5 linked regions of the Homo sapiens genome follow. The protein of the gene in region 2 interacts with the protein of the main gene of each other region in a pairwise test. Each region holds a gene or a part of one and is shown on either strand. Other genes may lie near its edges. The genes, in order: TTPA, FAM25A, LCN1, ARMC10 and KLHL35.

Evidence for each region.
Region 1: the proteins of FAM25A (region 2) and TTPA interact in binary tests that used the Homo sapiens proteins (3 or more experiments, as listed by UniProt).
Region 3: the proteins of FAM25A (region 2) and LCN1 interact in binary tests that used the Homo sapiens proteins (3 or more experiments, as listed by UniProt).
Region 4: the proteins of FAM25A (region 2) and ARMC10 interact in binary tests that used the Homo sapiens proteins (3 or more experiments, as listed by UniProt).
Region 5: the proteins of FAM25A (region 2) and KLHL35 interact in binary tests that used the Homo sapiens proteins (3 or more experiments, as listed by UniProt).

The regions. Positions count from the first base shown.
Region 1 is NC_000008.11:63,071,702-63,077,552, reverse strand, and holds part of TTPA (alpha-tocopherol transfer protein), read left to right. Parts: intron 1-965; exon of another isoform or gene 966-1,100; intron 1,101-4,464; coding exon 4,465-4,618; intron 4,619-5,851.
Region 2 is NC_000010.11:87,017,784-87,024,186, reverse strand, and holds the start of FAM25A (protein FAM25A), read right to left. Parts: upstream 3,894-6,403; 5' UTR 3,863-3,893; coding exon 3,790-3,862; intron 1,874-3,789; coding exon 1,811-1,873; intron 1-1,810.
Region 3 is NC_000009.12:135,519,224-135,525,542, forward strand, and holds the start of LCN1 (lipocalin-1 isoform 1 precursor), read left to right. Parts: upstream 1-2,216; 5' UTR 2,217-2,274; coding exon 2,275-2,364; intron 2,365-2,823; coding exon 2,824-2,954; intron 2,955-4,008; coding exon 4,009-4,079; intron 4,080-4,656; coding exon 4,657-4,767; exon of another isoform or gene 4,768-5,279; coding exon of another isoform or gene 5,280-5,606; coding exon 5,607-5,708; coding exon of another isoform or gene 5,709-5,884; exon of another isoform or gene 5,885-5,908; coding exon 5,909-5,934; coding exon of another isoform or gene 5,935-5,935; intron 5,936-6,319. UniProt on the Homo sapiens protein: Could play a role in taste reception. Could be necessary for the concentration and delivery of sapid molecules in the gustatory system.
Region 4 is NC_000007.14:103,076,976-103,082,826, reverse strand, and holds part of ARMC10 (armadillo repeat-containing protein 10), read right to left. Parts: intron 946-5,851; coding exon of another isoform or gene 919-945; intron 1-918. UniProt on the Homo sapiens protein: May play a role in cell survival and cell growth. May suppress the transcriptional activity of p53/TP53.
Region 5 is NC_000011.10:75,422,360-75,428,210, forward strand, and holds the end of KLHL35 (kelch-like protein 35), read right to left. Parts: intron 4,280-5,851; coding exon 4,161-4,279; intron 3,223-4,160; coding exon 3,034-3,222; intron 1,522-3,033; coding exon 1,333-1,521; intron 410-1,332; coding exon 221-409; 3' UTR 35-220; downstream 1-34.

The sequences.
Region 1 (5,851 bases), on a different chromosome or scaffold from region 2:
GAGCAAGGCTCCATGGGTGTTGGACCCGCCAAGCCATGCACAGGAGAGAATCTCCTTGTGTGCCAGTTGCTAAGACCTTGGGAAAAGTGCAGTATTTGGGTGGAAGTGTCCTGTTTTTCCCGGTACATCCGTCATGGCTTCCCTTGGCTAGGAAAGGGAAATCCCCCAACCCTTTGCACTTCCTGGGTGAGGCAATGCCCCGCCTTGCTTCAGCCCACCCTCCATGGGCTGCACCCACTGTCCAACCAGTCCCAGTGAGATGAACCAGGTACCTCAGTTGGAAACGCAGAAATCACCCATCTTCTGCATCGATCACACTGGGAGTTGCAGACTGGAGCTGTTCCTATTCGGCCATCTTGGAATGGATCCCATTTTTATGTTTTACTGATTTATAAAATATTTTTATGTATTTTAGGCCTTTTTATATATTTTAGGCCTTTGTCCTTGATTTTTATCTGTTACATTACTTATACTATTTTTTTCTGTGCAGAATTTTAAATTTTAATGTAATCAAATGAATTGATTTTATTAGTCTTTGATTGCCTCTGGGTTTTATAATCTCTTCTCTTGTCCAAAATTTTTTCTAGTTATTTGTGTCTTCTCTTTTTTATGTTGGGGTCTTTGATCTATTGAGATTTGTTTTTATGTTAGGAGTAAAATAGGAATCCAACTTTATTTATTTTCATTTTTTAGATGGCTATATAAGTATCCCAATATCATGAGTAATAAACTAATATGTACTTAGTAACTACTGAATATGAAAACACAATCTCAGGTCCTATGAAGAATGAAGCTTAAATGAGGCATTAAACATATATATGTATAGAGATAACTAACAATAAAACATGTTTCATTTACTAATTTCATTTTAGCTGCTTTAAAAAAAGTAATGTTTAAATAGAAAAATAAAATTGACCATCAGCCTCTGGGACATAATATATTTTTTTCTGTATTCCTTAAATAAGGAATTGTTTTCATTGTACCATGCCCTTGAGGAATTGGCTAGCAGGACTGTGTCTAAATCCACCGCATAGAAATCAAGTTTCTGTCTGTGAACTCTTTGTCTTGCTTTTCTGCCAACTGGAAAGGAAAAGGAAAGGGTAAGAGTGCAAAACTTTTTTTCATTTTCCTCTGCAATAGCACTTAATTCAACTCTAACTTCTTCATTCATAATATAGAAGCCCTATAGTTTTTGTATAAAGAAAGCTTGATAAGTGCCTCAGTCACAATGAAATTTCTCATTATTCTAGTGTTTGTATTTGAAGTTATGATGAATTAATAAGGTTTTATTATATAATCCTAATAGCTAATGTGCTTATAGAATGCAACATACTTTGGTAAGTAGGGTTTTCATGGATTATCTTTTATTATTTTCTCATTTTAGAAGAAACAGATATAAAGAGTAAGTAACTTGTCTGAAATTATGTAGCCATTAAGTGTTGAAGCAGGGATTTGAATTTGGGTTGGGCTCAGGAGAGAGCCTGCGCTGTCAAATACACTGCACTTGCCTCTTATATTTAAAACAACAAACATATAAAACAGCTAACCATTCACTTCTCTGCCTGTTCTACATAGTCTCATGAATTCCTTATATCAAGTGATAGCCTAGTTCCTTATACTTTTGTTCCATGTGATAAGCTTTTTATGCTATAATTATCTTTATGGTTTTCCCAAAGCTTTCCAAATTCCATAGATTCTCCCTGCTAATTTCTCTCTAAATGCAGCTTCTTTTATAAAATTTTTCATATCATGTGTCCATTTCAGTTTCCACTCTGCTCCTGATAGTTATTGCCTTTGAACAAATGTGTAATTTCTCATAGCTTTACTTTACTTTTTTTTTTTTTTTTTTTTTTTGAGACGGAGTCTGGCTCTGTCGCCCAGGCTGGAGTGCAGTGGCGCAATCTCGGCTCACTGCAACCTTCGCCTCCCAGGTTCAAGCGATTCTCCTGCCTCAGCCTCCTGAGCACGCACCACCACACCCAGCTAATTTTTGTATTTTTAGAGATGGGGTTTCACCATATTGGCCAGGATGGTCTTGATCTCTTGACCTCGTGATCCATCCGTTTTGGCCTCCCAAAGTGCTGGGATTACAGGCATGAGCCACTGTGCCTGGCTGGAGCTTTACTTTTCTTATTCTTATAATGCCACAACAGTAGCTACTTCTCAGGGTGATGGTGAGGAGGAATTCAAAAGATGGCATTAGACCCTATAAAAGTGCTCCAAATATGGTGGTTCTTATTTTGTTTCAAAGTACATGAAACATGTAAGAAGAAACCTACTCTGTTACAAAACATAGTTAACCCATAACATTTTAAATGTTTATTTACTTCTAATGTTTGCAAAACAGACACCTTCCAATGATGAATATTTATTTTTAGCCACTTCTTTGTTGTTGTTGTGGACATAGGGTGGTTTGTTTGAGAATTGCTCAGTAGCAGTTTATTTACATAATTTATTTATGACAGCTATACTGTGAATTTATGTATCAGTGGATAAGTAAAGACCAAAGTTCCAGGTTTAGATCTTTCAGTTTGCAAAAATTGTGCGAGATAGTGATTTGTGCCTCTTTACAGAAGTCAGTTTTTCAAGTGTGTGGTTCCAGTTGGTTTACTCATGACTTAATTTATTCTTTCATTCAACACGTGTTGTTATCTCCTGGGTGTGCAGCACTCTGCAGAGATGAATAAGCTGAGGCCCCTGCCAGTATTAAACCTAAATGATCCCTTCTAATGAAGCCACAACTTTTATCATTCCACAGGAAAAAAAAACACATTATTTCTATATAGTTACTAATGTGCAGCTTCCAGCATTTTACTTGAATTGGAATGAAAAAGATTTTTATGTCTGAGGAAACTATCAGAAAAGTAAAAAGCATTGTAAAATACTGTTAACAGTTATTCTGGTACCCCCTAAGACTGGAGGAGGAAGAGAAATGCACCGTGTAGAGTAGAATGAAGATATTAGGACCTACAATGTGCCTGTTGTTCTCATGCTTTTGGAAACTGCTATTTAGGTCACCAATTATTTCTTTGTTGGCAAATTGACTTTTTTCTTTCTTACTCCTCTCTTGCATTTAACTCTTAGCAACATTCTCTCTTTTTTCAAAGTTAAGAAAGGTTTATTAAATACAGAAATGAAATAGAGGGAGACAGACAGAGAGAGAAAGAGAGGGAGATAAATCAGAGATGGGGGTGAGGGGGAGCAGAGCAATGCAGATGGCACTGTCCTCCCTCTCGTGTACCAGTGCTGGTTCTCTTCAGGTCCACTCAGTTTCTGTCTTCCTCCAGCCATTCCCAGCCATTAACATTTCCCAAGGCTCAGCATTTCCCTCTCTAGTTTTTGTCGTTTGTAGTTTCTCCTCCAGATCATTGTGATTTTTGTGGTTATAGTTACCTTGTTTATTCCAATTACTCTCAAATATAAAATCTGTCATTTTCTCTGCACTGCAGTCTCACATTAATAAGTCTCTTTAAACTCAAAACAAATGTATTGTAACTTGTGAAAAATTGAGAGTGCCAAAAATCATGAGAATAAAATTAAAATATAAATATAATAATTTTTAAATACATAATTTGCTTTAGTATTTTCCACAATATGCTGGTAGTGTTTGTATGTTTGCGTATATGATTAGCTATTTCCGGTGGTTCTTTTGGAAAGAAAGAAAATGGGATTTCTTCAGACCATATTTTGACAAGATCCAGTATCCAAGTATACTGCTCCTGGGCTCTTCTAACTCATTTGATTGATTTCTATACTTCCTTATTTCAAAAAATACTAAAAGTGGTGTTTCAGCTTTCTATTGCTGAGCAACAAGTCACTCCAAGAATTAGTGGCTGAAAACACAATGATTTATTTGTTTTTGATATCACCAGTTTGGGCAGGGCTCAGTGGGAGTGGTTCATCTCTGTTCCACATGGCATTAGATGGGAACTTGGCTGAGGTCACACTATCCAGGATGTCCTCTCAACCTCCATGCCTCTCTCCACATGAATTGCTATCATTCAGTAATCTCACATAGTGTCTGGATCCCAAATAGTACATTCAGAAGGTACCAGGCTTCTTAAAGCTTGGCCCACACAGTATCACTTCTGCCAGTTGATATTAGATCAAAGCAAGGTGGAAGGCCAGCCTAGATTCAAGGGGAGTGAAGCAAATAGATGCCATCTCTTAATGGGAAGAATGGTGCATGGGTATCAGGAGGGGAGGAATTGGTGGCTGTCTTTGGAGGATATCTACCATGGGTGGTGAATGAAAGTTGCTCAGCTCTGAATTTGTGATTAACCCCTGTCACCTCAGATCCTTGATAAAAGAACTTTCAGTTTTCACAGCTGAAAAGATACCCTAGATTAAACTCTTGACATAATGGATGGCAAAGTTTATACACAATGCCAAAGCTTTTCTTCCATTTTTACAAAATCATTACCATGTATGCCATTTGTAGACAATTTTAATTTTATTTTTCAGTTACTAAAAAACTATTATAAGTGGAGAGCAGAATGTCCAGAAATAAGTGCAGATCTACACCCTAGAAGTATTATTGGCCTCCTAAAGGCTGGCTACCATGGAGTCCTGAGATCCAGGGATCCCACTGGCAGCAAAGTTCTTATTTACAGAATCGGTAAGTCATACACAACTCTTTTTTTTTTCTCCTCTCCTCCAGTTCAGTTGTGTTCCCTCCCCTCTCCTCTTCTCTCTTTCTTCCATTTCTTCCTTGAATACCATATAGAAAGCTTCAATGCATTCATCTTTAGGAATTTGGGCTTTAATTTAAAATTTTAGGTTTTAACTTAGATTTAATTTAGGTCTTAATGTCCCCCAAATATAATAACACTTTGGTAATTGTGAGAAAATTAACAGATACAAGTGAAAATCCTAGTTCCATTCTTCCACACAGTCAACTGTACAAAATAAGAAGAAAGGAAAATAGTGAAGATGAATAGTGTGAGAATATTTTAAAAAATCATGGAAAAGTGTTTCAAAAATGCTTAGTAGGAAGTGCAAATAAGAATTCTGAACTATTGGCTGGGCATGGTGGCTCACACCTGTAATCCCAGCTGAGGTCAGGAGTTCGAGACCAACCTGGCCAACATGGTGAAACCCCGTCTCTACTAAAAGTACAAAAATTAGCTGGGTGTGGTGGTGCATACCTGTAATCCCAGCTACTCGGGAGGCCGAGGCAGGAGGATTGCATGAACCTGGGAGGCAGAGGTTGCAGTGAGTCAAGATTGCGCCATTGCACTCCAGCCTGGGCAAAAGAACAAGAGTCCGTCTCAAACAAACAAACAAAAAACAACCAGAATTCTGGGCTATAATGTAAACTCCATGAGATTGTGGATTTCATCTACTCTGTTTGCTGGTGTATCCCAAGCACTGAAAACATGGTCTGGTACTTGGTAGGTAGTCACTAAATATTTGTGGAATGAGTGAGTGAATGACTAGTTCGAAAATGCCCCAGGCCGAGGAGCAAGAGGCTCATTCTCTTGGGTGGAGGAGGGTGCAGAGGAAAGGCAACTCCTCTGGGAGCTGTTGCAGACACGGTATTCCATTAACTCCTGTTTATTCTCATTGCATCCCCTTTTTTTCTATTAGGTGTAGCTAGTGTTTCTTGTAGGTTGGTGTCTTAGTGTATTCAGGCCACTATAACAAAATGACGTAGACTGGGTGACTTATAAAAACAGAATTTTATTTCTCACAGTTCTGGAGGCTGGGAAATCCAAGATCAAGGCACTGGCAGATTTGGTGTTTGGTGAGGGCCTGCTACCTGGTTCCTAGGTGACATCTCTCACTTTAACCTCACATGTTGGAAGTGAAAAGGCATCTCTCTTGGAACTCATAAGGGCACTAATCCCAT
Region 2 (6,403 bases):
GGCTTGGTTTATAGTTTTTTTTTTTTTGGCTATAGAAAATTTCAGTTTTGGATTGTCAAATTTACTTAATATTTCCTTTATGGCGCTGATTTTTTTGTCATGGTTCTAAAGATTCTCCCCTCTCCAAGATTAGGCCAAAGTCTTTTATGTTATTACTATGTCTAAATGTTTATGATGTCTTCCCCCTCAAAACTCATACGTTGAAATCCTCAGTCTTAATGTAATGATATTAAGAGGTGGGGCCTTTGGGAGGTTGAAATTAGCACCCACATAAAAGAGACCACAGAGAGCTAGCTCCTTCCACCATGTGAGGACAGAGCTGGGCCCATCCACGAACCAGAAAGACTCCCTCACCAGATGCCAAATCTGCCAGTGCCTTCCTTGATCTTGGACTTCCCATCCTCCAGGAGTGTGAGAAATTTCTGTTGTTTCTAAGTCGCCCAGTTTATGGTTTGTTTTTGTTTTTGAGACAGAGTCTTGCTCTGTCACCAAGGCTGGGGTGCAGTGGTGCAATCTCAGCTCACTGCAACCTCCGCCTCCCAGGTTCAAGGGAGTATCCTGCCTCAGACTCCTAAGTAGCTGGGATTACAGGCATGTGCCACCACGCCCAGCTGGTTTTCGTATTTTTAGTAGCAACGGGGTTTCACCATATTGGTCAGGCTGGTCTTGAACTCCTGACCTCAGGTGGCCCACCCACCTTGGCCTCCCGAAGGGCTAGGATTACAGGCGTGAGCCACTGCACCTGGCCTATGGTATTTTATAATAGCAGCCTGAGCTAAGATGGTTATCTCCTAGTAAGTTAATAAATTCATTTATGTAAATTTAAGTCCTTCATCTACCTGGAATCTATTTTGTTGAAAAGGAATGAGATATACATATGCTTTGTACATAGTTCTACTCATAGCTCACACACATCAATTTAACATTTAACATAGAATTTTACATGTTAAATTTTTTTTTTTTTTTGAGACGGAGTATCACACTGTCGCCCAGGCTGGAGTGCAGTGGCACGATCTCGGCTCACTGCAAGCTCCGCCTTCCGGGTTCACGCCATTCTCCTGCCTCAGCCTCCCGAGTAGCTAGGACTACAGGCACCCGCCACCGTGCCCAGCTAATTTTTTGTATTTTTAGTAGAGATGGGGTTTCACCGTGGTCTGGATCTCCTGACCTCGTGATCCGCCCACCTCAGGCTCCCAAAGTGCTGGGATCACAGGCGTGAGCCACCACACCCAGCAATTTTTTTTTTCTTTTTTTTTTTTTGAGACCGAGTCTCACTCTGTAGCCCAGGCTGGAGTGCAGTGGCATGATCTAGGCTCACTGCAAGCTCTGCCTCCCAGGTACACACCATTCTCCTGCCTCAGCCTCCCAAGTAGCTGGGACTATAGGCACCCACCACCATGCCCGGCTAATTTTTATGTATTTTTAGTAGAGATGGGATTTCACCGTGTTAGCCAGGATGGTCTCAATCTCCTGACCTCGTGATCCACCCTCCTCAGCCTCCCAAAGGGCTGGGATTACAGGCGTGAGCCACCGCGCCCTGCCATGTTAAATGTTTTGTCCCAGTGTGCTGTCACATAGTCTTGTGTGACTTTGTCTTCTTATTCCACAGACAGAACCATCTAGACAGTGCCCTAACGCAGTACAGTCTGTGGCCTCTGATGAGCATAGATAACTGCCCCAGCCAAGAGGCTCTGAAAGGCTGCAACATTGGGGGCAGAGTTTGACCTGGTTAGTCAAAGAACAGGTTGGCCCAGCACCTAGCTTCCCTTGCTCCCTCCCTCCTTCCCTGCCCGACCTCAGCCAGCTGTACCTTTCTCTCCAGTCTCCTTGGCGTGTCCCACCACCTCCTTCACCACTTCTTCCACGGCATGAACTGAACAGAGGAGACAAGTCCAGGGTGAGGGCTCAGAGCAGAGCCGCTGCCCTCCCAGTCCAGGGTGAGGGCTCAGAGCAGGCCCACTGCCCTCCCAGTCCAGGGTGAGGGCTCAGTGCTGGCTTATCCTCACAATGGACCTATACATCCCTGGACATCCTAGATGGGGCTCTGGGATGCCACCCCCAGCCAGGACAGACTGGCTCATGAGAAGGACCTTCCCCCACAGCTGGCTTCCTTCGGAGACGCCAGGGCCTTGGCTGCCGGGAGACGAGCTCAGTGAGCCCCATGAGGGCATGGGTCCCTGAAGCCCCTTGGCCCTGCCCGGCCTGGAATGGCAATGAGCAGGCCATCTTGCCAGCTGAGACATGAAGCCCAGGCTGGGCCTCTGTGCCAGGTCACACCCCTCTCAGGATGTGCTAGCGCCTGCCTCAGGTTGGTTTCCAAAGCCTCATCCAGTAAAACCAGGTCTCTCAAAGCAATTCCTCCAACAAAAGGGAATTCTCTGCCTACTTCAGAGTTTTTTAAAGTGTAGGTGGTAGCATGCTAGAACTGAAGGATTTCAGAGTCAGAAGAAATGGTTCTTATTCTAACTCTACCTTCCACCTCTTGGTTCCCTCATCTTTAGAATGGGAATCTGTTGGGGTGATGAGACCCAACACCAGGTCGCGGGGGCGGCAAGTCCAGAGGAGTCAAAGGAATGAGAAAGAGACAGTTTGAGAGAGAAAATGGGAGCGGGGCGCCATCGCGAGTGTGGAGGCTGCGAAGGCCCGGAGTTCTGGGAACCCATGCTATTTATTGGTGATCTAACAAAGAAACAGGTGGTGAGGATGTGGCGGTTGAAAGGAAACGGTGTATCAAGTGAATGAGAAACATACGGCTACTTGAGAAAATGGGAGTGCTAGAAGCAAGGAGCCAGCCAATCTAGCAAGCCCTGCCTCAGCTTCTCTCCCAACACTCAGCTTTTCTCCCAACAGGAATCATACAAAACTCAGAGGCTAGTGAAAGGTTAAAGCAGGTGGTCCACACCAGCTGCAGAGTCAAAAACAAAATACGCGTCTGCTGCCATTTAGAAAGAGGACACAAACTCAGGCAAGACTGTTTTTCACACGATGACCCATGAGTGGCTCCTGGCTGGGCCTCCCCACACATAGCTGCTGACCTCTGAATACAACATACACTTCGGGACCAGGTGCGGTGGTTCACGCCTGCAATCCCAGCACTTTGGGAGGCCAAGAGGAATGGATCACTTGAGGTCAGGAGTTTGAGACCAGCCTGGCCAACATGGCGAAACCCTGTCTCTGCTAAAAATATAAAAATTAGTTGGGCATGGTGGTGGGTGCCTGTAATCCCAGACACTCAGGAGGCTAAGGCATGAGAATCACTTTGAACCCAGGAGGCAGAGGTTACAGTGAGCCGAGATCGCACCACTACACTCCAGCCTGGGTGCCAGAGCAAGACTCCATTTCAAATACAAATAAAAATAAAAATAAACATGCTTCAGGGGACTTGGATGAAATTGAAAATGCCCTTTTTGACTTTGAACAGACTTGGTGACTTGTTTAGAAATCTTTGAAGCTTTAAAGTTATGGTAAAAATAAAAATCCATCTTCCTTTTCCTGCATAGGTTATTCAGAATAGGCTGTTTTGACAAGAAAGGCTCCCCAGATTTCCAGAGGGAAGGGTCCAAGCTGCCAGTGTTCACCCAGCACCAGGACTCATGCCCTGCCCCCAGGAGACCTCCCCAGGTCTGCACCCCTCAACTCCGTGCTGACTTGGTAGAGCAGGGGACCAGGGTTCCTGAGGGGCCAAGGCCTCCTCCCAGGTCCTCACCTGCCTACTTAGATCCGCCTCCCACAGACCCAGTCTGCCCCAGATCCCCCCAGCCCAGGTAGAAAGGAGCCCCAGGTCCTCACTGGCTCCCTCGGTGGCCTTCTCGGTGCGGTGGGCCAGGCCTTCGGCAGCCAGCTTCCCCAGGCCTCCCAGCATCGTGTGGCAGCAGACAGTGGTGAACTAGGATGCTGAGGACTGGCCCAACATGCTTTTATAGCTGCCTCTGGTGCCTGTCTAGGCTCTGGGGCAACAAGCCCTTGCCCCAGCCCAGTAGGAGGCTGGACAGGTGAGTCAGCGAGGGCGGCAGCAGGAAGGGGCTGGGCGGAGCCACCCTGGCACTGGGGTGGCAGCATCCCCTGACAGCCTGAGGCTTCTGTAACCCTGTCCTAGGGACCCCGTGAAGGATAGGGGCAGGGAGCAGGGCTGGACAGGAGAGATCTGGACATGCCTCTTCCTTGAGGCAGAGGGCCTGAGTGCCAGCCCCCCGAGACCAAAACTTCCCAAGCCTGGGTACTGATATGTACCTGGAGACAAGGCCTAGGATTCCAAGCCTGCTGCTCAAGGTCCCCAGTGTGGCCTAGTAAGAGGTTTAGGGGTTCTATGGGCCTGGAGACCTGGGCAGTCCTTTGGGTCATGAACACAAGTGGAGTGAGGGTGACTGCCCTCCCCATTCCTGGAGACCCTGGCTCTGCAGAGCAGTTTGTGGCCTCTATGGGACAGGGTGGGGCGTTCAGGGTGGTGCCTTGCCTGAGTCAGAGGGGGGCACAGCACTGGGCAGAAGTGTAGTCACCTGGCTTTGCTCAGCTGATGCTCACTCACCCAAGAGTGTCTGTGAGGCCAGCAGTGCCCTCCTATCCCCTGGCAGTCCTGGAGGAGTAGACAGAGGCCTCCACCACCACTCAGGGAGATGCTTCTGGCCTTAGCTAGAATCCCCTAGAAAGCAGCTTCCCTGGCTCCTGGTGCATCACATGAGGAGTGGCAGGGCTGCTCCCTAGTTACTCATGATGGACAGACATGCCTCAAGCCACCTGCCACATGCTGCTTCCCTTAGTCACCAGCCCAACCTGAGCCTCCGTTTCCTCATCTGTAAAATGGGGATAGCGTGCCTTCCTGGCTGTGTCACTAATCGTCCCTGAGACAAAGCATGCAAGCTCCTGGTAAACACCTGTTCCCTCCACTCATCATTGAGGTGCCCTTTGGCAGTGAGCTCTGACCAACCGGTAGGGTGGGCCAAGGAGTGACTGGGACGTGAGGCTGCCTTGGAGCCAGAGGGCTGGGGAATGTGACTTCCGCTGGCCAGGAGCCAAGGAGAGGTCTTCCCATCCTCCTACTTCTGGGGTGCAGGCCTGTGGCAGGGGTCTGAGGCTCTCTCTTCAATGCAGGCTCCTGGAGCTGCTCTCCTGGGTGTGTTGGGGCCTGATTAGTTTACTGGACTGTGGGCCCTCCCAGCCTGGGACTCGGGAGCTGAGACCCTCTTGCATTCCTGCATGGTGTTTGCGGGCTCCAGGGCTACGGCCAGTCCCCCTAGGGTGGACAGTGGGTATCGTGGGCAGCAGGACCTCTGGGTCTCAAGACTACGGCCCCACACATGCCATTGCTATCTCCTTTGGGCAGGGGTGAATTGGGGCTTAAACAATTTAGAGGGGCCCTCTTTATGAAAAAGAATACAATAATATGATTCTTGCACATTTTTCATTTATATACGTATGAACTTCTGGACCCAGAAGGGGCTGTGAAAGTCGGGGGCCTGGAGCTCAGGCGGGTCCAGATGACCCTGTCCTCCTTTTGTAACAGCCAGAGTCCAGGATGTTTTTGCCCAGGGCATTGGGCTGGCACTGCAGAGGCCTGGGGGATGGGGGGACACCTGGGACATGGCTGGTGGGAATTGTTCTAGGAAACCTCAGGGATTCTCCCTGGACCTGTCAAAGCCCCTTCCCTGTTTCTTCTGAGGCTGTGTGTCCCCCACTCGCACAAGGGTCCTTTCTATGCCTGTTCCGCTGATAAATGTCATCTGCCTGCTCTAGAATGGCTTCCAGACCCCACAGACCCCCTCCTCACGAGCTCCCACCCTAGGGTACTCTCCACCAGTCCCCGCTTTCAGGAGCTCACCAGACTCAGACAGCCTGTTGTCAGAGCTCAGCCACACAGCAGGACCCTGGCCCACTGCCCAGACCAGAGCCAGGCCCACCGCAGCCTCGGGGGACAACTGTCCTTCCCCCACCCCCTCCACATGGTCCCCTGCCCATGAGACCCTGCCCTGCTAATTTAATGCACTGCCTTGGTGTGAGCACTGTGATTCTAATGACAACACACCATGGCCTTCTGGGCAAGGCTGGGTCCAGACACAGATCCCAAATGCCTGCTGGGGAGAAGGCAAGAGGCCCGGGGAGGCCCAGGACAAGACATGGGTCCCAGGCCCTGGTGCCCTCCCTCTTGGCCTTCCAGCCGCTGCTGCTGTGACCAGATTCCCATCCACCCAGCCCAGTCCATGGGCCCCAGCAAGCCATCTGTGCCCCACAGAGGGCAGACCCCTAAGAGTGGGACCCCTTTCTAGCCAAAGAACATGAGATGGCCCCAAATCCTCCTAAACAGGATGGATCCTGGTCTGAGGGGCTGGGCTCAGGTGACTCCTGCAGGGAACTTCACCTGCCTGGATGAGGTCAAGGGTGAATCAGGTGGGGCCTGCCCTCCACCACC
Region 3 (6,319 bases), on a different chromosome or scaffold from region 2:
TTAATGTCCGAGATGTCTTTATTTTGCCTTCAATATTTTATGAAAGTTGCACTGAGAATAACATTCACAGGTAAATGTGATTTCTCCCGGGTCTGTTAAAGACGTCACTCCACTGTCTTCCGGAAGGCAGCGTTGCTATTGAGAGGTCTGCCATCAGTCCACATCCGCTTTTATGGTATGTAGTGTGGCTCTTCTTTCTGGTCATTTTGACTTTTTTTCTCCTTTCCTGGATGATCTGCATTTCACTGTAATATTCTAGGAGTGGATTTCTCAATTTTGATCATTCCTTGGTAATTTAGATCTGGGGTGTCATCTTCATGTCTTTTCAATTCTGAAGAATTCTGAGCTATTCTGTTGCTTTGTTGCCATTTTAGAAAATGTTTTTCTTTCAGAACTCCTATTCTGTTTATATTGGAACCTCCTGATCTATTCTCCATGTGTGTTAACTTTGTGCATGTGTGTGCATGTGTGTATGTGTGTGAGTGTGCATGTGTGTGTGTATGTGTGCATGTATGTGCATGTATGTATGAATGAATGGTGTGTGCACGCGTGTATGTCTGCGTGTGTATGTGGGTGTGCATGTGTATGGGTTTGTGTGCATTTGTATGTGTGCACATGTGTGTGTGTGCATGTGTGTGTGCGTGTGTGTGCATGTGTGTGTGTATATCTCTGTGTGTTGTGTTTTCAGAGCTGCTGCACTCTAGTTGGTTTCCTCCACTCATTTTATTACTAGCTCCAGGCTGGAGACTGAATCTATCTGTAACACCTCAATTTCTCTTTTGAATTTTTCTGCTTTCATTGATTTTGTTAGTACTATCTTCCATGACACTAAGTCTCTTTTCTACTATGTCAAGTCTGGAATTTAACCTGTCTATTGAGTTTTTTATTCACTTTATTATTCATCTTCAAGATTTGTAATTATTTCTATTTCGTCTCTCCTTATTTCTTATATTCTGGCCAGTTCTAATTTTATACTTTATATATTTTTAAATCACTAGGCATCTTGATCATACTCCTGCAGTTTTAAAGTGTGTGTCAGACTTTCCTTGGCTGGTGTAAGTTCCTGTACCAATTGCTCATTTTTAGCCTGCCTTTCTTAGTGTGGTGTTTCCTTGGGTAATTTGGAACCTGGCCTTTCTAGCTTATTTCAAGGTGAGGATATTGTGTCTCTGCATTTCTGCCTTTCTCTGCCATCTTGTTGTCACTGTCCTCTGTCTAGCAGTGTTTTGTAGCCTCTGCTCCCATCCCGGGTCCCAGGCTTCTGCTCTGCAGTGATGCAGAGCATGTCACAGATAAAGTCATCCTTTCCAAGGACGGCTTGTCTCAGCTTCTGCCCTTGAGGCTGTGTTGATGTCCTCTTGCCTTCCTATGCCCACAGTGCTCCACTAAGTTATACGAAGTTACAGCCCTGGGATGTGTCAAGGAGGGTTTCTCAGCCTTCTTTCTGGAGTCAGGGAAGCCCCTCCCATCACTCCCAGGAGCCGGACCTAGGCCCTCTCTGCCTGCCTTGGGACTTGGAGCTGACAGGCCCCTGCCTCTGCCCCATCACCAGCCTGTGCTTCTCCTCCATTCCTTGTTTTATGTGAGTGTGTGTGCGTTTGTGCATGTATATATGTACACACATGCATACACACACACACACCTGTCTTGGTCTTCTGTCTGTCTGACCTATTGCTGCTCTGTGTGTGGAGCAGAGAGGGTCGTTACTGCACACCTTGCTCAGGACAGTGGACACCGTCTTTAAATGCACACGGGATCGTGTTCACACAGGAGGGTCCCTTTTTTTCCATGATGAATCTGAGGCCAAGTAACCTGCCCAGAGATGCAGGAAGCTCAGCTGAGCCCCAAGCCCACGGCCCTCGGACTCCAACCCCAAACCCCCTTGACAGTGTGCACGTCAGCAAGTGTGGGATGGCTGGGGGGCATCTGTTACGGCTGCACACGTCCCCAGGAGGCCTGCACACCCTTCACTCCCTTCAGTTTCCCTTCAGGTGAAATCTGCAAATCTGCTCCTCTGGACCTGGTCCTGTCCAAGTGATCCTCTGGGATTAACAAGCTGTTATTCACCAGCCTCCAACAATAATGGCAGGTTATCTGCTCCATTGCAGAACTGGCAGTGGTTTACATCCAGGAAGGGATTGGTCAGTCTCCTGTGCCAGGTCCCTGGGGGACCCTGAGCCCAGCGGTATAAAGGGCGGCTGTGGGAGGACTGGTACAGCCTCTCCCAGCCCCAGCAAGCGACCTGTCAGGCGGCCGTGGACTCAGACTCCGGAGATGAAGCCCCTGCTCCTGGCCGTCAGCCTTGGCCTCATTGCTGCCCTGCAGGCCCACCACCTCCTGGCCTCAGACGAGGAGATTCAGGATGTGAGGCCCGGATGGGAAGGCTGGGCTGGAGGGGGCAAGGGGCGAGGCTGAGACTGGATGGAGACCCCATGCCTCCTCCATCCAAGGAGACCCTCGTTTTTGGGTTGGGCATTCAAGCCCTGCCCTGAGGGAATGGTGGGATGGGGCAGCAGGGGTCTGGGCTGGCAGGGTAGGTGGCGCAGGGGTGCAGAGTGGGCAGGGCTGGGAGGGTGGGGGTCTGGCTGACTTCACTTCTTCCCTGGGGATGAGGGCTCCTGTGGTCCTGGCTGGCTTGTGGGGGCTGGAGCCACCTTCAAGTGGGCCTGGCGAGGGTGCTGGGTGTTTTCTGGGTGGGTTAGATTGGGGAACGTTCCCCGTTTCCAGCCCTCGGGGTGCGGTAGAGTCTAGGGGCTGCAGGCCAGGGAAGGGGGAGGCTCTGGAGCAGTCGGCCTGAGCCTGATAGAGAGGGGCCTTCTCCAGGTGTCAGGGACGTGGTATCTGAAGGCCATGACGGTGGACAGGGAGTTCCCTGAGATGAATCTGGAATCGGTGACACCCATGACCCTCACGACCCTGGAAGGGGGCAACCTGGAAGCCAAGGTCACCATGCTGTGAGTGTCTGCCAGCCGGCCGGGCAGCCTGCAACCTGGTCTAGGGCCTTCCCTTTCCCCACCCAGGAGAGCTCTGGTGCTGGGGAGGTGGGCAGACCTGCTGGGAGGCCTCTCTCGGCCCCTCCTGCAATGCTTGAGGGCAAACTGTGCCACTGAGGTGCCTCGGCTGGAGGGGCCCTGAGGGGGCAGAGGCCCCGGATCAGACCCTGTGGGCTACCAGTGGCAGCCCTGGGTACCGCCCACTTCCTCCTCCGACTAGGGAATGTCTGGTGACGTGCAGGCCCCTTTGGGAAAAGGTGTTTACCCCCGACCAGAGTCAGAGCCAGTCCTGGCAGTAAATTTCTGCTTTGGAGAAGTGCAGGGATGGGGCTTGCAGAATGACCAAGAGGGGGCATAGGAGAAGACACCATGGAGAAGACCCCCTTGAAATCCCTGTGTAGCGCTCACCTGTGCGGCTCTCACCTGGGCTGCTTCCACCCGCGTGGCTCACATCTGTGACTTCCCACCTGTGTGATTTCACCCGCATGGCTCCCTCCTGAGTGGCATGCAGTGCCTGTGCTCCGGTCCTGGGGGCTGAATCTCAGGAAGTCACTGACCCTGGCAATGACCCCGATTTTTTTTTCCCCCAAAGCCCCTCACTGAACCTTTCCCTCTCTGGGCCAGATGATGATGGATATGGGGCTTGTGCCTGAATGTCTCTAAAAGGAAGAATGCAGCTGGCGGGATGAGGCTCAGGCCCACGCCACAGACGCTGCCTGCAAACCAGGCAGCCTGGGTGCCTCTGGCAGGAAATGTGTTGGGGGCGGGGGGTTTGGGAAGGCAGCCACCAGGAGGAGCGGTGCAGAGCTCCTGGCCATCTCGGGAGACCCCGGGAACTGCCGCATGGGACCCGGAGGGGCCGCTGGTGCCTGGGTCTGAGATGCAGAGAAGCACCCTCCTCCATGGGCCTGTGGCAGACTCGGGGCCACATTTGCAGGGCATTGCAGCATGGTTGCTCCAGGGCCGGGGGAGGCACAGGCCAGGGCCGCTTTGCCAGGGGGCTTCTGTTTTCCAGGATAAGTGGCCGGTGCCAGGAGGTGAAGGCCGTCCTGGAGAAAACTGACGAGCCGGGAAAATACACGGCCGGTGAGTCCCGGGGCCTGAGCCAGAGCCTGAGCTTGAACACACGCTGGATGTGCGGGGGCAGCCAGTGCCTTTTTGGGGTGGCCTTTTGGCCTGGGAAGCCTTTTGCTGCCTTCTGACTCCACTAAAAGCCCACTCTCTTCTCCCACTGGTCAATTTGCATTAGAGACTTGAACACCTGACCCCAAACACCAGGTGTGGCAGGTTTGTCCCGGGGCGGACCCTCTGGGCTTGCCCTGTAGCCCTGGCTGTGGCTCTGGCAGGGCCAGGAGCAGAGTCGTATTTGGCTGCGGGGGGCTGTACCCCAACTCCCACCTCCGCAGACCTCATACCCGGAGGAACCCCCCGTGACTCACTGGTTTGGGATGTGGCCGCCTCTTGGGTACATCAGGTTCCTGGGAAGTGGGGGTCCCATGGCCTGGGGCTCAGGCCTGGTGGGGAACCTGGGTCAGGGAGCTCTGGGAGGCTGGGAGGGTGCAGGAGCTGCGGGGCTTGCTGGGCCTGGCAACGCACGCTGTCCCGGGATCCTCTCTGAAGTCCCTGGTGGCTAATTCAGGAATGTGCTGCTGTCTTTCTGCAGACGGGGGCAAGCACGTGGCATACATCATCAGGTCGCACGTGAAGGACCACTACATCTTTTACTGTGAGGGCGAGCTGCACGGGAAGCCGGTCCGAGGGGTGAAGCTCGTGGGTGGGTCCCGCACCCTCACCCTGCAACCCATGCCTCCACCTGCCCTCCCTCCTCCCTCGGCCTCCTGCACCCTCTTCCCCATGGGAGAAGCCACTGGGACCCAGGAACCCACTGCAGTTTTCTTAGGATGAGTTTTCCTGATAAAGGCCTCAATTCCCACCCCTGGAGTTCAGGATTTGGGATGCCCCGGCCTCGGTATCTGCAGCAGAGGCAGGAAGGAGCCACGGCTGCAGGCACAGGGGTTCAAAGGTCACACATGTCCCAGAGTGGGCCAGGCCCTCCCCCGGAGCAGCTCCCTGCAGTGTCATCCTTGAGCGCGTTCCTGTGGGGTGTCCAGCAGGAGAGAGGAACAGGGATGTGAGCAGAAGTCTGCATGGAAAGAACGTTCCAGCTCCCGGGGTTGAATTCCGGACGCGGTGCCTCCCACAGATGGTGACTCATCAGTGCTGTCCCTGTCAGAGGACGAGGCCCATGAAGGCTCCTGAGTTCTCCCTGGAGCCAGGGGTGTGCGAATGACAGAGGATTGGGATCCTGGTGCCCCCAAGGGGAGAGGCGCTTCCTCCAGGGTGGGCCTGTCGTGCCGTCCATCCTCACTCCGGGAGATGCTCAGGGATGGATGGAGAGCCCTTCCCGTTCTCCCGGTTCTGCTGCCACAGGAGCCTTCTCAGCCGTGCACGGCACCCTGGTCCCACTTTGCCAGCCTGAGGGCCTCTGGGTTCAATTCCCCCCACGGTGGGCGAGGTCCCCTTCCCCAGCCCAGCTCAGGCCTCCAGACTGGGATGGGGTGCCGTCGGCCCAGTGCTGCCTCGAGCACCCACATCTCGTCCTGGCACCCACAGGCAGAGACCCCAAGAACAACCTGGAAGCCTTGGAGGACTTTGAGAAAGCCGCAGGAGCCCGCGGACTCAGCACGGAGAGCATCCTCATCCCCAGGCAGAGCGGTAGGAGGCATGGCCCTGCAGAGCCCCCCATGTCCCCGCGTGGGGACATCAGCAGAGCTGCATTGCACGGGCGCATAACTGTGCTGCGTCTAATTCTGGCTTTGTCCTTCCTGGGGTGGTGGAGCTGGTGGCTGATGAGGGGCCCCGGTCCTGACTGCATTCCTGGGGTCTCCTAACGCCTGTGCTTCCTTTTCCTGCAGAAACCTGCTCTCCAGGGAGCGATTAGGGTGAGTGAACAGCTTTAGAGGACATTTGAGAAAATCCAGTTCTGGGGCTCAGTGGTGCTTCCAGAGGCCATGGGGTCTCTCCCACCCATCCCACTCCTACCTGGGTGGGAGATGCCCCACGTAGGTCAGGCAGGTGGGAGCTCTGCTCCTGAGCTGCCCACGCTCGGGCGTCAGACTCCGTTCTTGCCCTGGGTGTGACTCCTGGGCAGCTGGGAAGCCCACAGCGCTGAGCCCGCCTTTGCTGGCTGCTGGTGGAGACGGTGTCTACCCCCCAGTCACATGGGCAGGAGCAGGCAGGAGATTCGGGTTCCTCCTCAGCACCCCTCACCCTCGGCCATGCCTGTGACTCCACTTACCCGATAAGTTGCTCAAAGATTCAGCAAA
Region 4 (5,851 bases), on a different chromosome or scaffold from region 2:
GATGTTTAAACTTATGGCTTTACCTTAAAAAAAATCCTCTTTACAGAAATCACCACAGGAAGAACAGAAGCCATTTTATAACACTCTTACTGGGGTGGTGGGGGGAGGGGCAAGGGTAGGTGAGGAGGAGGTTACACAACAATAGGTGTTACATGATCTCAAATCTGTGTTTTTTCTTAAAACACATAAAATTGTTAGGCTGGGCATAGCAGCTCATCTCTGTAGTCCCAGCACTTTGGGAGGCAGGAGAATCACTTCAGGCCAGTGGTTCGAGACCAGTCTGCACAACATAATGAGACCCTGTCTCTATTAAAAAAAAAATAAGTAAATAAAATTGTTAAAGGTGATTATTTTTGGGTAGTGGGATTATGAAGGACTTTTATTTTCTACCCTGTACTCAACAGTACTTTTTTTTTTTTTTGCAATAAACAGGTATTATTTCTGTAACTAAAATAACTAAGTATATTGCTCAAAGAAGAATCACACACACACACACAAAAATAAATAAAGGGACAAGTATAGATTACACATGGGAAACAATATGTGGTACGTGATATATAATATGTGATGCCCTGAGGAAGCCAAATAAGAAATGTTAAGAAAATGTCACAGCTACAAAGCTAGAATATTCTCACTACCAAGTCTTAATCAGGACCTTTTACTTTTGAATACACTGTTGGCCTCATTAACACCTTATAAAATAGCGTTTCACCCAAAGAATACTTGAAAAGATAAAGGAAAGAATGATAAAAACACAACTTTTTAGAACGGAAAGAATTTGGGGTTCATCCAAACCTCTTATTTTACACAGGAAGAAACTGAAGCCAGGATTGTTCAAGGATCTGCCTAAAGTCACAGGGGTAGTTAGTAGCAGAAACCACAGAAATGAAAAATCAAAGTTACAAGTAAGTCACTTACTATTTTTGGGGGTCTCAGTTTTCTCATCTGCAAATAAAAGGGTTGGCTTAATACTGTAACTGGCTCCAGAGTTTCCTACACAGCCCTGAAGTTGTATGATTTCATATACACATGCATACATACACGTGCACATGCATGGCAGAAATGTGATAAATTTAACTCATCCATATTTGAGATATTTCAAAATCATACCACTCTATGTTATCTCATGAAGTCATTTTTAAAAAGCTTATAGACTGGGTGCAGTGGCTCACGCCTGTGAACCCAGCACTTTGGGAGGCTGAGGCGGGCAGATCACTTGAACTGAGGAGTCTGAGACCAGCCTGGCCAACATGGTGAAACCCCATCTCTACTAAAAACAGAAAAAAATTAGCCAGGCGTGGTGCAGGATGCCTTGTAATCCCAGGTACTCGGGAGGCCGAGGCGGGAAAATTGCTTGAGCCTGGGAGGCAGAGGTTGCAGTAAGCTGAGATTGCATCACTGCACTCCAGCTTGCGTGACAGTAATGAAACCTTGTTTTTGTTTTTGTTTTTAAAAAAGAGAAAGCTTATAGATGTATAAATTCTTTATAAATAGCCATTTAAAATTTTTCTAGGGATTAAATCACTAACGATAAAATTTCACGGTGTTGTATCACAGAATTCTCACTTGGTGGGAAGAGGCACAATGTGGTAGTTAAAACTAAGCCAAGGCTATGGGGTCAGGTTGTCTAGTTCAAATTCCCAAATAAGCTACTTACCAGGTAAGAGACTTAGGCTCTCTCAGCCTCAGTTTACTCATCTGCTAAGTGGGAGTTAATAGTGCCTACCTCAAAGCACTTTTGTACCTAGAATATTTAAAGTGACTAGTATATTATTTTCATTAATGGGACACATAGCTGATTAATAATAGCAAAAGTGGCTTTAGAATCCAGATCTTTTTACTCCTACATTACTCTTTCCTCTCAACCATTATTCCTCCTAGTATATTAATATAATGAGCCTAGCTGAATGCGGTGGCTCACACCTGTAATCCCAGCACTCTGGGAGGCTGAGATGGGCGGATCACGAGGTTAGGAGTGCAAGACCAGCTTGGCCAAGATGCTGAAACCCTGTCTCTACTAAAAATACAAAAATTAGCCAGGCATGGTGGCACATGCCTGTAATCTCAGCTACTCCGGAGGCTGAGGTAGAAGAATTGCTTGAACCTGGGCGGCAGAGGTTGCAGTGAGCCGAGATCCCACCACTGCACTCCAGCCTGGGCAACAGAGCAAGACTCCATCTCAAAAAATAAATGAATAAATAAAAAATAAAATAATGAGCCTATACTTTAATTCTATATATTCTCTTTGAATTTCTAATAAAAACCATTTATCGGCCCAGCACGGTGGCTCACACCTGTAATCCCACCACTTTGGGAGGCCAAGGCAGGCAGATAAGCTGAGGTCAGGAGTTCGAGACCAGCCTGGCCAAGATGGTGAAACCCCGTCTCTACTAAAAGTACAAAAATTAGCCAGCAGTGGTGGCACATGCCTGTAGTCCCAGCTACTCGGGTGGCCGAGGTAGAAGCATCACTTGAACCTGGGAGGCAGAGGTTGCAGTGAGCTGAGATCGCACCACAGCACTCCAGCCTGGGCGACAGAGCAACACTCCATCTCAAAACAACAAAACAAAACAAAAACCATGTATAACTTTTTAGTAAAGAAATGTAAAACTTAAAACTCTAAAAATTTTACAGGAGGGCGATCATCAAATACTCAGCTCTTCCACTGGTGAGTTTTTGGACTGCTATTACACAGGTGAGGAGTCAAACATGTGTTCTACTTTCCATCTAGCTCTGTGCCAACAAGACTGTGAAAGAATCTTAGGCTCGGTGGTTTGTGGTCTCCTCCAGTAAATCAAGGAGAAATTAGAATTCTCAAAGGGAATGAAAAGTGACTACCACATTATAACGTAGCAAGACAAATTTCAAGATAACTGTCATGGTTCAGAATCTTTCCAACTGGGAACACAATATGCCTGTTTATGTAGTCTTAGGCCCTTCAGTAAAATTATCTTCTCACTACAGGAACTCCTAGTTTTTAAAGTGAATTCCTAATTTTTAAAGTTTTTATAGCTATCATGAATGATATATATTTTTTGAAACAGGGTCTCATTCTGTCAAATAAAATATTTTCAATTAAAATTTTGAATTGTTACTGCATGTATACAAGAAGTTATTGATTTGGGTATATTTACTTGTACTCAAGATATTTTATTAAACTCATTGCTTCTAGTAGTTAGTTAATTCTCTTGGATTTTTCCAAGTAAATCATTATGCCACCTACGATTATAATTCTGCCTCCAATATTTATGCATGTTGTTTTCTTATCAAGCTATGACTCCAGAAGAACGTTGAATAGTAGCTGTGATAGCAGACACCCTTCTCTTGTTCTTGAGTTTGATAAGGATGCTACTAACTAGTGTGTCTATTAAATACGATATTTGCTTTTGGGTTTTGATGGATGTACTTGATCAACTTAAGAACATTTCCTTCTATTTATTCCTTACTTGCTGCAAGTTTTTATCAGAAATGATAAAATTTTTTTTCTTTTTTTTTCCCCGAGCTTCAGCTATGGAAAGAAATATTTTAATGCCTTTTTATTATGAGGTCATCATGTGGCTTTTCCTTTTTCTAGTATGACTCCTCCTTCCATGTCCATTTGGCCTTGGTATATTATTACTTTAATCCCCTGATAGATTTGACTTGCTAATATTTTAAGATTTTTATATCTTTATTCATAGTTGAGACAGATTTATAGTTTTTCTTACCATCCTTGTCAGGTTATGACGTTAGATTGTTGGATGAATTGGGACTGTTTCCGTCTTTTTCAATGCTCTCAAACCACGTTAGTACAAAAATTATTTTATTTTTTATTTTTTAAGACAGAGTCTTGCTCTTTTGTCCAGGCTGGAGAGCAGCGGCACAATCACAGCTTACTGCAGCCTTGACCTCCTGGGCTCAAGGGTTTCTCCCAAAACAGCCTCCTGAGTAGCTGGGACTACAAGTGCACACTACCATGCCTGGCTAATTTTTCTATTTTTTGTAGAGATGGGGTTTCACTATGTTGCCCAGCCTGGTTTTGAACTCTGGGCTCAAGCGATTCTTCCACCTCAGCCTCCCAAAGGGATTAGAGGTGTGAGTTTAAAACAAAGAAAAGATCGCCACTGCACTCCAGCCTGGGCAACAGAGCAAGACTCCGTCTCAAAAAAAAACAAAAACAAAACAAACAAAAAACAAAAGATCATCTTCTGAAATCTAAGCGTGATGATGACTTTATTAGTCCATTCTCATGCTGCTATGAAGAACTGCCCGAGACTGGGTAATTTATAAAGGAAAGAGGTTTAATTGATTCACAGTTCCACATGGCTGGGGAGGCCTCAGGAAACTTACAATCATGGTGGAAGGGGAAGCAAACACTTCCTTCTTCATAGGCAGCAGGAAAGAGAAGGAGTGCAGAGCAAAGGGGGAAGCCCCTAATAAAACCATCAGATCTCCTGAGAACTATCACGAGAAGAGCATGGAGGGGAGGGGAACTGCCCCCGTGATTCAATTACCTTCCACCGGGTCCCTCCCACGATGTAGGGATTATGGGATTACAATTCAAGATAACATTTGGGCCGGGCACAGTGGCTGATGCCTGTAATTCCAGCACTTTGGGAGGCTAAGGCAGGCACATCACCTGGCCAACATGGTGAAACCCTGTCTCTACTAAAAATACAAAAAAAATTCGCCAGGCACATGGTGTGTACCTGTCATCTCAGCTACTCCGGAGGCCGAGGCAAGAGAATCGCTTGAACCCATGAGGTGGCGGTTGCAGTGAGCTGAGATCATGCCACTGCACTCCAGCCTGGGAGACAGAGTGCGACTCCGTCTCAAAAAAAAAGAAAAAGATGAGATTTGGGTGGGGACACAAAGCCAAACCATATTGATGATGAAATGAGCATTTCTCAAGTCTTCTTCAATGATAAAGGAGTAGCTTCAGGAAGAAGGGACTGTGAGCAAATTATTTTTTAAGCTGCCTTACCTAAGATAATGATGATTATGGGAACTGTTAAGTTTAAAAGACTGTCCACATTCATCAGATTGAGTCAGTATAACTGAGAAGATATCTGAGTCCAGGACACCTTCCCAATGTACTTATACAAAAATATCTCTGACATGGGCAAAGACAACAAATTAGGCTTTGTAAATGCTATGATTTGAATGTCTCCTGCGAAACTCATGTCGAAACTTAATTCCCAATGTGGCAGTATTGAGAGGTAAGGCCTTTAAGAGGTGACTGGATCATGAGGGGTCTGTCCTCATGAATGAATTAATCCATTCATGGATTAATGAGCAGGACTGGTGGCTTTATAAGAACAAGAGACCTGAGTCAGCATGTTAACACACTTGCCCCTCTGGCCTTGGGATGCCCTATGCCACAACAAGAAAGCCCTTACCAGCTACGGCCCCTCAATCTTGGACTTCTCAGCTTCCATAACTCTAAGAAATAAATTTCTTTCCTAATAAATTACCCAGTTTCAGATATTCTATTATAAGCAACAGAAAATGGACTAATACAGTAAGGGTACATACAAATCTTTAAAAAAAAAAAGCTGAATTATACCTAGTGGCAAAAGTGAGAGAGACCTTCCCCTTCCACTCCCTTTTTCTTAAAGCATTCCCTCGTGCAAACTTGTAATTAAAAATCCTTTATTGGCCAGGTGAGGAGGCTCAATCCTGTAATTCCAGCACTTCGGGATGCTGAGGCAGGAGCACTGCTTAAGCCAAGTTCAAATCAGCCTGGGCAACATGGTGAAAACTCATCTCCTAAAAAATTGGAAAAATTAGCCAGGTGTCGGTGTGCACCTGTAGTCCTAGTTACTTAGTGGGGTGAGGTGGGAGGAGCCCAGGGAAGTGGAGGCTGCAGCTG
Region 5 (5,851 bases), on a different chromosome or scaffold from region 2:
GTGCTTCATCAAGAGTAAACACAGGGAGCAAATATTAGACATTCCATCTCCAGGCAGGGCAGACTGCAGCTGGAACACAGACCCAACAAGATTTTATTTATACAAGAAAAGGGACCATTAAGTTAAGGGCTGTTTGCGTGGAGGTGCCATGAGGGAGCAGAGTGTGCATCTGAGCTCCGCCTGCCTCTCCGCCTCCTGGCTCAGGCTGTCCAAATCTGAATCACCTGCCCAAGCTCTGGATGATGGTGACACAGCCGTGGGAGCTGGTGCAGCGCTGCAGGGATGGCTGGACCTCCACCTGCCCACTGCTGGGGTCAAAGGTGAAGACCTTATCGGTGCTTTCTCCGCGATCATCCCGCCCGCCAAGGATGTGGACCTTCCCGTCACACACAGTGACTCCACAGCTTTCCTGGGTGGACAAACAGAAAGACAACTATCAGGTCCAGCCTGGGGCTTCCTCTGTCCCTGCCTGGCCAGGCCAGATAATAGAACCTTGACCCACAGACTGTGAACAGGCAATCTGGACTGTAGAGAGGCAGGAAACTGGATGGACCTGAGTTCCAGCTCTAGCTTGACCCTTATTCAGTGAATGGCGTTAGGCAAGTCACTTAACCTCTCTGGACCTCAGTTTCCTCATCGGCAAAGGGAGAAGAACTAAAGTGCCTTCTTCACAGGGTTCCCTTAACAGTTAATGGAAGTTAAGCATATAAAGCATTTTACATAGAGCCTGGAATGTGGTAAGCACACCAATAACAATAATCTCGACTGCCGCCATCTTAGAATCTCAGACTCAAGCCAGAAATCTCACCTCTAAGGTCACCAAAGGTCAGAACTGGCAGAGACCTCCAGTCCAACCATATCTGTGTAGTCTCTGGAGTTTCAGGGGATGGAGAAGAAGGTAGGGGAGGCAGGGAATTGCAGGGGCCAGAGCTTCCAGGACTTGGGCCTCCCTGCTCTGATATCACTAGAGCAGACCTTAGCAACTCCCTTCCCCACATCTTACCTCATGATTGGTTACTAGCAGTGGCCTTCGGGGCAGGAGAGACCACAGGGTCATTTGGACCAAATCCCCACTCAAAGCTATAGCACTTGGGACTGCAGGGTTCTAGGCTCTGCCTTAACAGGGCCTAGTTGTTGGCCTGGGCCAGGTGCTGAACCTCTCTAAGGCCAGTCTCCTCATCTGTGAAATGCATGGTTCACTATCACTGTGAGGATGAGCTAGAGAGTGATGTATAATAAAACCACCTAGGATGGAGTCACAAGATTCACAAGCTCCAAGATCCAGAGCCTTAGAAGCGGGTTCCGCTCTCCTGCCTTGAAGCCTCCACTTACCACAGGGCTGGGGAGGACAGCTGCCTCCCCCCACACATCTGTGCCTGGATCATAGGTGAAGATTTTGCTCATGAGACCCCCCATGACATAGATGGTGTCCTCAAGGGAGACAGCCTCGAGACACCGCTGTGAGAAGGGTGCTGGTGACCGCAGGCTCCACCGGTCCTCCTTGGGGTCAAAGCACTGCACCTGAGGGGCAAGAGCAGCAGTGGTGAAGACTCACCGCCCCCCCCAACAAATGCCCCACCGCCCACATGCTGCCACCTCTCCCCCCGGGGGCACTCATTCAAAACGACATTTGCCAGTGTCCACCAGGCCTGAGCCAGCATCTGGGAGGGAGGGGGAGGTCCACCGTCCCTGCCCTCAAGGGCTCTTCATCTAGTTCTATGTTCTGTCCTCTGCCTCTGGACTCCCTTTGTCAAAAGCCTCCTCATCTTTCGAGGTCCTGCTCAAATGCCACCCCATCCTTAAAGGTCTCCCTGGTGTTCCCCCCTCCCCTCACCCCTCAACACACACACACAGGAACAGTCTCTCCTTTGATGGAGAACACAGTCGCCTCATGTTAGATTAATCATAGAGCACATCATACTGAGCTGGGAGAGGTACTGTCTGCTTTAGGGTTATAGAGGGTCCTCAGAGCAGACCCCCGACGGGGATGTGTTCCTAGCTGCATACACTGTCAACTCCCTTCTCTTTTCCTGGTGCTCTCAGGTCATTAGATTCTAGCTGAGGTGTCTTGCAGCCCTATTTCTACAGCTGTCCACATGCCCATGGGTGTTTCTGATGCCCTTAACAGTTTCTGTATTTAGCTGCCTGCTCACCTCACTCTCTGTTTCCTCAACTGTTTCCTTGGAGACCCCCTCCCCCCACAGCAGCCTATAACAAATCAGTGCTGCATGGATGGTGTTAAATGGGGCCTCCCACCATGAGTGCCTATCACTCAGCTCCAGGAGGGTTTGCTGGAAGAATGTGGTCAGGGAATAAGGAAGCGTGGGCACCCTAATTTGGGAAAGAGTCAAGTCCTAGGACCACAGGCTTATGAGGCCATCAGGGGAGGGAAGGAACTGCTATGATAAATATTTTTATTTGCAAAAAGCCTAAATGTCCCAACAATAAAAGATGAGTAGACTCTAGTTCATCCACCATGTGGAATAGTACAGACATTGAAATGATGGCTGTAAAGTTGATAATCACGTGGAAAATGCTCATACCTAAATTAGAATAAAATGCAGAATGCAAAATTCTAACAAAACAAAACTGTAAGAAAAACAAAAATCAATTCAGTGGAAGCCTGTAAGGCAACACACCAAAATATGAATAGCAGCTCTGCCTAGACGGTGGGATTATGGGTTTTTTTTTTTTCTATTTTTCTGTGTTTTCTAAATTTTCAGTAGTAAGTGTATTGTTTTTGGAATGGAACAAAAGCATTTTAACTATCTTGCCCTCAATTTTTAAAATGTATGAAACTTACATGGCACCAGCCCAAACATTTGAGTCCCAGTGTGCTGCTGACCCACTGTGTGACCTTGGGGTCATTTTTCTGCTCATTTCCTTCCCTGAAACATGGAGGTGACTGGTCTGGGCTGTTGATGGGATTAAGTGAATAAATGGACAAGGGCATGGAAACGCCCAATTCTGCGCCTGGCACACAGTGGGCACCCCAGCCTTCAACGCCCTCTCGCGCCTGAGGCCCACGCCCACCTTGTCCGTGTTGACGCCGCCCTGCCTGGCGCCCCCAATCACGAAGAGCTTGCCCGCGCAGGACGCCACCGCCGCCGAGCTCACGGCCTCCGGGAGGGGCGCGGCGGCCGCCCAGGTGTTGGAGAAGGGGTCGTAGCGCTCCACGCTGTGCAGGCGCCTCAGGCCGTCGAAGCCACCCACCGCGAACAGCTGCAAGTGAGGACATGGGCCGGGGAGCCGGGTGCCAGGGCCTTAGGGCCCTCGGCCTCATCGCTTCAGTCCTTACAGTCTTTGAGCTGGAAACTATCCCTGTCCCCAACCCAGTTTCAGGACCAAACTGACCCCCGAGCCCAGTGCTGCCACCACCTGGGCAGCCTCCACCCAGTTGCTGTACCTCCCTGAGCCGGTTTCCTCTCATTTAGCGGGGATGAGACCTTAACCTGCATGGTTACAGCTGTAAAATACCTGGCACCAAGCTGATGCTTAATAATAATAGCTAGTATTGAGACTTTACCACCCCACTTAATTGATTCTAAGAAGCATCTTTGTTTCTGAATTCGGGATGTAGCTTACAAAGATAATTGACTTTTTTTTTTTTTTTTGAGACAAAGTCTCGCTCTGTTGCCCAGGCTGGAGTGTAGTGGTGCAATCTGGGCTCACTGCAAGCTCCGCCTCCCAGGTTCATGCCATTCTCCTGCCTCAGCCTCCTGAGTAGCTGGGACTACAGGCACCAGCCACCACGCCGAGCTAATTTTTTGTATTTTTAGTAGAGACGGGGTTTCACCGTGTTAGCCAGGATGGTCTGGATCTCCTGACCTCGTGATCCGCCCGCCTTGGCCTCCCAAAGTGCTGGGATTACAGCCACTGCGCCCGGCCGACAGATTCTTTTATTCTTGAGTGGCACAGTCAAGATTCAAACCTAGACTCTATGGCCCCAGAGCCCATACCCTTGACCATCAGGCTGTTACTATTACAGTAATTGCTATTATTATTAGCATCAGCCATTATTATGTGACCTTGGACAAGTCTCCTTTTTTGGGGGGCTTCAGACCCCTTCTTACAAAGAGAGGGTTTTAGAGAACCTCCCTCCAGCACATCCACAGATCTGTACCTTGTGTCCCAGGGCAGCCGCTGCAGCTCGTGCCTACCTGCCCCTGCACAACTGCCATCTTGTGCCTCCACCTGCCCTTGTGCAGAGAGGCTACCTTGATCCAGGTGTGCAGATGGGAGCTAAACATCCACACATCATGACTGTTGATGTGGCCTCCTAGGGAGAGAGAAGCAGCTGTTGCCCATCGGCTCTCTTGCTATCCCAAGCACCCCCAAAGAGCTAGAAACTAGGGCCCCCAGATCCAAAGGAAGGGTTAAGGGAAGGCAGCAGGAGGACTTCTTGAGCTGGTGTAAGACTCTGGACCTGTGACCCAGTGTGCTTTGAATAAGTGGTGGGAATGTCTGAGTTACGACCCTCGAGGGGAGAAGCCTGACACATTCAGGAAGAAGGGGCTGGTTTTCGCCGGGCACCTTGTGGTGGTGGTGGTGGTGTGCCAGGCTCTGTGCTCAGGAAAGCAAAGAGGGGGCCGCTGTACTAAAGGTAAGAGTACAAAGGGTACCTAAGGCAAGCATCTGGAATGTACTGGGGATCCAGGAAAAGCAGAGCCAGCTGCACTGGGAGCCAGGATAGGTAGAGGGTGACCCAATAACCCTCCCTCCCTTCTGCCTTCACCTGCACAATTTCATTTCTGATCTCATCCCTCCATGAGGTGTTGGGAATATTAGACCCAGTTTACATATAAGAAACTCAGATGAGACTTAGAGACCAACAATGACCTGCTGAAGACTACATGGCCTTTTGTCAGAGCCAGAACCAGAGCTTCTGGCTCCAGGCCCAGCATTGGTGCTGCTGGAGGACATGGCATGCCCTATGGGGCCAGGTACTGGGGATGCAGGATGTGGACTCTCCCTTCCCATGTCTGGCCACCCTGGGGATCTTGGCCAGGGATTCACCTCTCAATGGGAGCCTCCCTGGGGACAACCCTAACTGCACCCTTCAGCCTGAGCCTGTGACCAGAGCCACATCTGTTTGGTAGCCCCATCTTTGTTTATTCCTAGTGGCACCCAACAAAGGCCCCACATGTTGCTCAGAGCCATCAATGGCCTTGGATAAATTGTCCAGTGGTAATCTGTGGCCTGGATGGTCTGTGAGGCCTCCCTGGCTTATTCTCCTGCTCCTTACTCTTTGCAGGCACCCATAGTTCTTTACAACATTAAGGTCAATCCACCTAGCCCCAGACTCAAAGCCTCCCTGATCTGACTCCTGCCTCACCTGTGATACTCAACCTGCACTTCAGAGCCCTGAGTCCCCAGGGTTCCTTTCTGCATGTCCCTGCCCTTGTGCCTTTGCCCATACTGTTCCCTCCAACTTTCAAGGTCCAGCTGAAAAGTCATCTCTTCTATGAACCCTGGCTAGATTCCCTGAGTGGCATTCCAGATCATCTGGGGACTCTGAGAATTCTGATCACATTCTGCCTGGCAGTAAAAGTGAAGTCTCTCTCCTCTCCAGGACACTCCAGGGGAGCAAGGACTGTGTTTTATGCTTCTCTGAGTCTTTAGGGCTTGAGCCTTAGGGAGGACACAGTTTGTTGGTATCAAACAGATGTGTGTTCCTCCTAGCTTTGCCATTTTTGAGACAATGGGGGAAATTCTGAGCCTCTCCGAGCCTTTCTTATCTGTAAAACAGCATTGTAGGGGGATTTAATGATAACGAATGTAAGCTTCTTAGCATAATGTTCGGCACATAGTAGGCTAGTTGAAGTGATTATTAATACTAATACGAATTGAC